Homo sapiens: one gene and its partner. The protein of the gene in region 2 purifies or fractionates together with the protein of the main gene of each other region. This does not show direct contact. Each region holds a gene or a part of one and is shown on either strand. Other genes may lie near its edges.

Region 1 (3,360 bases), on a different chromosome or scaffold from region 2:
ACAGTCATCTGCCCCGATCTGGGGCAACGCAGTTTCTTCCCAGGGCTGTTGCCATAGCATCGCAGTGGATCACCCTTCCTTCAGTCTTGTTCCCCTCTGGTTCTTTCTCTCCACTAGACTTTAAAAAATTTTTGAGATAGGGTCTTGCTCTGTTGCCCAGGATGGAGAACAATCATAGCTCACTGCAGCCACGACCTCCTGGGCTCAAATGATCCTCCCACCTCAGCCTCCCGAGTAGCTGGGACCACTTGTGCTTGCTAGGATGCCTGGCTAATTTTTAATTTTTTTGTAGAGACAAGGTCTCACTGTGTTGCCTAGGCTAGTCTCAAACTGCCAGGCTCAAGCAATCCTCTTGCTTCAGCCTCCCAAAGTGTTGGGATTACAGGCATGAGCCACTGCACCTGGCCTAGCGGATTTCTGAAGCATTAATCTGTTCTGTTACTTTCCAGCTAAAAACCAACAAGTGTCTGAGGACACAGTTTAAACTCCAAGATGATAGGGTCCTCCCTCACCTGGACTCCCACCTACCCTCATGACCTCCTTTTGTGAAATGCTGAAGGGCTCTGCAGCTGGTTGTCTGGTACTGCTGGCCTTTGCTTTCTATTTAGCATGTTCCTTCTCCCACAAAACAAAATCACATTCTCACTATGCCCTGTTCATTCTTCAGGACTATCTTCTGGGAAACTTTTACTACATACCCCTCTCCCCCTAATCTGAGTGTCTGCTTTGCTCAGGTAACATGTGTTCACTGGATAAATCCTTGATTCCTGGCACTGAGGCAGGGTTTCTGTTCCCAGGAAGCAGAGGCATACTATTCTGTGAAGGATTGACTGAGTTTCTCCTAATACCAAGCAGTATCTGAGGGAACAGATGTCTAGCTTAAAATCCTCCCTAGCACTTGTCATAGCAGTGCTACGTATTGCCTGTGAAGGAAGTTTAATAACTGCTGAAAGGTTCGATTAGCTTTATTTCATCAGGATTTGTTTGACTTTACAAATTGATTTGGGTTATTTCAACTTTTAGGTCTAGTCTTAAGTATAACTGGTACATATTCCTTCAAGCAGCCATTACACCTCTCATAAATTTATTATACACCTGCATTTTTATAACTATTATGCTTTTTAATTGTTGGCCACCATTTTTAGTGCTTCTGAATTGTTATGGTTCTCAAGCAGCAGTTGTCACCTTGGTTTTGAATTAATGCTGTGACGCTTGCTTCCAGGACCCCTATGGTGTAGCCGTGGGTGGAACTGTGGGGCACTGCCTGTGCACGGGATTGGCAGTAATTGGAGGAAGAATGATAGCACAGAAAATCTCTGTCAGAACTGGTAAGTCTTGAAAATTACAAATCAGATAACATTTTAGAATCACTGAGAGATTAAAGGGTGTTAGCTTTGATTATTTAAATTTCTGCTGCTGAAGTATACTTGGTTTTTCTAATTACCTACCATCTCTTATAGAGGTATTAATCCTGGTATTGCAAATACGGACTTTTTTCACCTGTGTAGAAGTTAGCAAAATACAAAGTCATTTTTATCGAATTCATAGTAGCTTCTTGTTAACATATTATCTTAGTAAAACAATTGTCATTTGGAAGTATGAGAAGTTTTTGGCTCTAAAAATGTGTCTTACAAGACTGGAATCATGTGGAGACCATATGTACTGATTCTGCTGAATATGTCCTGTGAAGCCACAGTTAGGTCTAGAGATGGAAGAATCGTCTCTTTGCTAGTCAGAAGACCTGAACATTTTCTTTTATAACTGGATTTTAAGATGAGTTATAGTTCTACTGTTGCTTGCCAGCACTGTCTGGATTTAATACAATCCTGTCATTTCTCAAAACAGTGCTGGAGAAAACCTGATTCTTAGTGTTCACAGTCAAGCATGTTAAGTATTGTTCCTTGTTATGTAAAAGGGGTTGAAGTGATTCTAATTTGTTTTCAAGGTTAGTTTAATAGATTGGAAGAATAATTGGCCGCCTCATCGGCTCCCTTTTCATTTTGTACAGTATCAAGGTATAGGAATTTTACTGTATTTGACTTTTTTTCTCTCTCTTCCAGTGACAATCATAGGAGGCATCGTTTTTTTGGCGTTTGCATTTTCTGCACTATTTATAAGCCCTGATTCTGGTTTTTAACAAGCTGTTTGTTCATCTATATTTAGTTTAAAATAGGTAGTATTATCTTTCTGTACATAGTGTACATTACAACTAAAAGTGATGGAAAAATACTGTATTTTGTAGCACTGATTTTGTGAGTTTGACCCATTATTATGTCTGAGATATAATCATTGATTCTATTTGTAACAAGGAGTTTTAAAAGAAACCTGACTTCTAAGTGTGGGTTTTTCTTCTCTCCAACATAATTATGTTAATATGGTCCTCATTTTTCTTTTGGTGCAGAACCGTTGTGCAGTGGGGTCTACCATGCAATTTTCTTTCAGCACTGACCCCTTTTTAAGGAATACAAATTTTCTCCTTCATCACTTAGGTGTTTTAAGATGTTTACCTTAAAGTTTTTCTTGGGGAAAGAATGAATTAATTTCTATTTCTTAAAACATTTCCCTGAGCCAGTAAACAGTAGTTTAATCATTGGTCTTTTCAAAACTAGGTGTTTAAAAAAAGAGACATATATGATATTGCTGTTATATCAATAACATGGCACAACAAGAACTGTCTGCCAGGTCATTCTTCCTCTTTTTTTTTTAATTGGGTAGGACACCCAATATAAAAACAGTCAATATTTGACAATGTGGAATTACCAAATTAAAAGAGAATACTATGAATGTATTCATATTTTTTCTATATTGAATAAACAATGTAACATAGATAACAATATAAATAAAAGTGGTATGACCAGTGCTTGTTTTTCCTTGTGTGTCATATAAAATTATCAGTATTGATAGGCCAATTTCTAAAGCTGATGTAAAAACACTAACATATTAAATATTTGAGATATGCCTAAAGTAGCTAAACAGGAGCCAGGCATTGTTCGAAAGCATTGTCACCCTTACAGTTCTGTGAGGTAGTAGGTACTAATATAAGGTTAAAAAAGAAAAAAACTAACTCACCCAAGGTTACATGGTAGAGTCACACCAGGCGGTTTAATTCCAGAGCCTAATGTCATTCATTATGCTAAGACTACCTCATTTTTTCATGGCAACTTCAGTCGTCACCCTCGTTTGAGTATATTTTGATTTGACTACTACTTCACCCAAGTAGCATAACAGCTGCTTTCTCTCAGCCTTTTATATTCTAGAATCATATGCAGTAACATTCCCATTAATAGCCTCACTAAATTGAAGGACAATTCTACAGAAACATCCATGTTATTTGTGTGAGGTATAATAGGAGACCCAGAG
Region 2 (3,500 bases):
GGCACGCGCCCACCACGCCTGGCTAAATTTTTTTTGTATTTTTAGTAGAGACGGGGTTTCACCGTGTTGGCCAGGCTGGTCTCGAACTCCTGACCTCAGGTGATCCTCCCGCCTCGGCCTCCCAAAGTGCTGGGATTATAGGCATGAGACACCGCACTCAGTCTTGTCTCCCAATTCTTTGTATCTCTGTTTCCAAATCAGTCTCTGACTCTGTTCCTGCATGGGGCTCCCTTTAAGGTGCAGCTTCCTCTTTCTTTAACCCTTTCTCCATGTCTCTGTCTCCCTCCCAGCAGTTCTCAGCCCTGGCTGCACATTCCAGTTACCAGAGGAGCTCCGGTAAATATAATGCCCAGACTCCACTCCCCAAATTCTGATTAAATTGGCCTGAGACATGGGAATTTGTGTTTTGTTAAAAAGCACCTCAGATAATTCTAATGTGCGATCAAGGTTAAGAAGGCCCCTCGGCCGGGCACAGTGGCTCATGCCTATGATCCCAGCACTTTGGGAGGCCGAGGTGGGCAGATCATCTGAAGTCAGGAGGTCGAGACCAGCCTGGCCAACGTGGAGAAACCCTGTCTCTACTAAAAATACAAAATCAGCCGGGCGTGGTGGTGCATGCCTGTAATCCCAGCTACTCAAGAGGCTGAGGCAGGAGAATCGCTTGAACCTGGGAGACAGAGGTTGCGGTGAGCCGAGATCACACCATTGCACTCCAGCCTGGGAAACAAGAGAGAAACTCCGTCTCAAAAAAAAAAAAAAAAAGAAGGCCCCGAAACAATTGTCCTAGGTCCCTCTGTCTTCTGGTGACTCTTCTTTCTCTGTCCACACCTCCTCTTCTTTATGCTTATCTCTTTTTCTTTTTAGAGACAGGGTCTCACTCTGTCGCCCAGGCTGGAGTGCAATGGCACCATCATAACTCACTGCAGCCTCAAATTCCTGAGCTCAAGTGATCCTCTTCCCTCAGCCTCCTGAGTAGCTGAGACCACACGTGCATACCACCACGCTCACCTAATTTTTTATTGAGACAGGGTCTCACTATGTTGCCCAGGCTGGTCTGGAACTCCAGAACTCACGTGATCCTCCTGCCTCGGCCTCCCAAAGTGCTGGGATTACAGGTGTGGGCTACCAGGCTTGACCTCTCCCTTTCTAAGCCAGTTATTTCTGCATCTCTTGCCTTCTCCCCATTTGTCCTATCTATCTAGATCTCTTTCTCTCTTTTCCTCCCTTTGATGTTATCTCTCCATCTCTGATTTCCTCTGCTACCTCTCCTCTTGTCCCTAAAGACGTCTCGGGTCTCTCTCCTTCTTTTGTTGTCACCATCTCTGTCAATTACCATATCTGGCATTTTCTGTGTCCTTTCTACATGTCAGGGGCTGTTCCCAGTGCCTTCTGTGCACTTACTAATTTTTGTCCTTACATGAGGTCTCCACCTTCATAAAATGTATTTTACAGAAAACTTCCATTTTACAGAAAAGGAAATTGAGGTTCAGAGAAGTGAAGTAATTTGCCCAGAGTCACGTCACAAAGCGAGGACACAGCAGAGTCATCCCTTAATCCCTGGGCAGCCTGGTGCCAAAGCTCTAACCAGTGCCTTTGACTGCCTCTGCAGACTGTGAATCTATCTATGTATATATATATAGATTTTTTTTTTTTGAGACAGAGTTTCACTCTTGCTGCCCAGGCTGGAGTGCAATGGTGCGATCTTGGTTCACTGCAATCTCTACCTCCTGGGTACAAGCAAGTGAATCTATATTTTTAAAACTTGAACCAGGCGGGGCATGGTAGCTCACGCCTATAATCCCAGCACTTTGGGAGGCTGAGGCAGGTGGATCACGAGGTGAGGAGTTCGAGATCAGCTTGACCAACATGGTGAAACCCCATCTCTACTAAAAATACAGAAATTAGCGGTCAGGCACAGTGGCTCACGTCTGTAATCCTGGCACTTTAGGAGGCCAAGGCAGGCGGATCATGAGGTCAGGAGATCGAGACCATCCTGGCCAACATGGTGAAACCCTGTCTCCCTAAGAAAAAAAAAAAAAAAAACAACAAAAAATAGTTGGACGTGGTGGCGTGCATCTGTAACCCCCGCTACTCAGGAGGCTGAGGCAGGAGAATTGCTTGAACCTGGGAGGTGGAGGTTGCAGTGAGCTGAGATCATGCCACTGCACTCCAGTCTGGGTGACAGAGCAAGACTCCATCTCAAAAACAAAAACAAAAACAAAACTTGAACCATGATCAGCAATAAGAAGACATTTACGTTATAACCAGTGCAGACCAAGGTATATGTTTCACGAAACAAGACTTTCCCTTGCTCTACAGGTGCATGCATATTTTCTGTCCTATTCTTCTTTTTAAATGCTGGTTGCAACCCACTAAATTATTTCATGTGACTTGCACGACATCCGGCTGTGTAACCCAAAGTCAAGTGACCTCCCCTTTGTTAGCCTCAATGTCCTCATGTACGGAATAGAACACTCATTGATTCAGTGCAGCATGTGTGTATATGGGACACTGCACATTACAGGTTCTCAGTAAATGTTATTATGGCCAGGAGCAGTGGCTCATGCCTAGAACCCCAGCACTTCGGGAGGCCGAGGCAGGAGGATCGCTTGAGACCAACTTGAGCAACATAGGGAGACCCTATCTCTACAAAAAAATATTTTTTAAATTACCCAGGCCAGGCACAGTGGCTTCCCGGGCACCGTGGCTCACATCTGTAAATCCCAACACTTTGGGAGGCCGAAGTGGGTGGATCACTTGAGGTCAGGAGTTCAAGACCAGCCTGGCCAACATGGTGAAATTCTGTCTCTACTAAAAGTACAAAAATTAGCCAGGCGGCCAGGTGTGGTGGCTCACGCCTGTAATCCCAGCACTTGGGAAGGCTGAGGCAGGCGGATCACAAAGCGAGGACATAGCAGAGTCATCCCTTGAACCCTGGGCAGCCTGGTGCCAAAGCTCTACCACTGCCTGACAAACATGGTGAAACCCCGTCTCTACTAAAAATACAAAAATTAGCCGGGTGTGGTGGATGCATGCCTGTAATCCCAGCTACTTGGGAGTGTGAGGCAGGAGAATCGGCTTGAACCCGGGAGGTGGAGGTTGCAGTGAGCCAAGATGGCGCCACTGCACTCCAGCCTGGGTGACAGAGGGATACTCCGTCTCAAAAAAAAAAAAAAAAAAATAGCCAGGCATAGTGGCAGGCACCTGTAATCCCAGCTACTCAGGAGGCTGTGGCAGGAGAATTGCTTGAATGTAGGAGGCAGAGGTTGCAATGAGCCAAGACGGTGCCACTGCACTCCAGCCTGGGCAACAGAGCGAGACTCTGTCTCAAAGGAAAAAAAAAAAAAAATTACCCGGGCGGATGGTGCACAACTGTGGTCCCAGCTACTCAGGAGGCTGAGGCGAGAGAATTGCTTGAGCCCAGAAGTTTGAGGCTGCAGTGATCGCGCCACTGCACTCCAGCCTGGGTGACAAAGTGAGACTCTGTCTCAAAAAAAAAA

The links. Proteins that work in one complex are often made in the same cells at the same time.
Region 1: the proteins of COQ8B (region 2) and TMEM165 purify together in Homo sapiens (affinity purification with mass spectrometry; one large-scale study listed by BioGRID and IntAct). This does not show direct contact.

Annotation. Positions count from the first base shown.
Region 1 is NC_000004.12:55,423,316-55,426,675, forward strand, and holds the end of TMEM165 (putative divalent cation/proton antiporter TMEM165 precursor), read left to right. Parts: intron 1-1,222; coding exon 1,223-1,328; intron 1,329-2,060; coding exon 2,061-2,137; 3' UTR 2,138-2,860; downstream 2,861-3,360. UniProt on the Homo sapiens protein: Putative divalent cation:proton antiporter that exchanges calcium or manganese ions for protons across the Golgi membrane.
Region 2 is NC_000019.10:40,710,387-40,713,886, forward strand, and holds part of COQ8B (atypical kinase COQ8B, mitochondrial), read right to left. Parts: intron 1-3,500.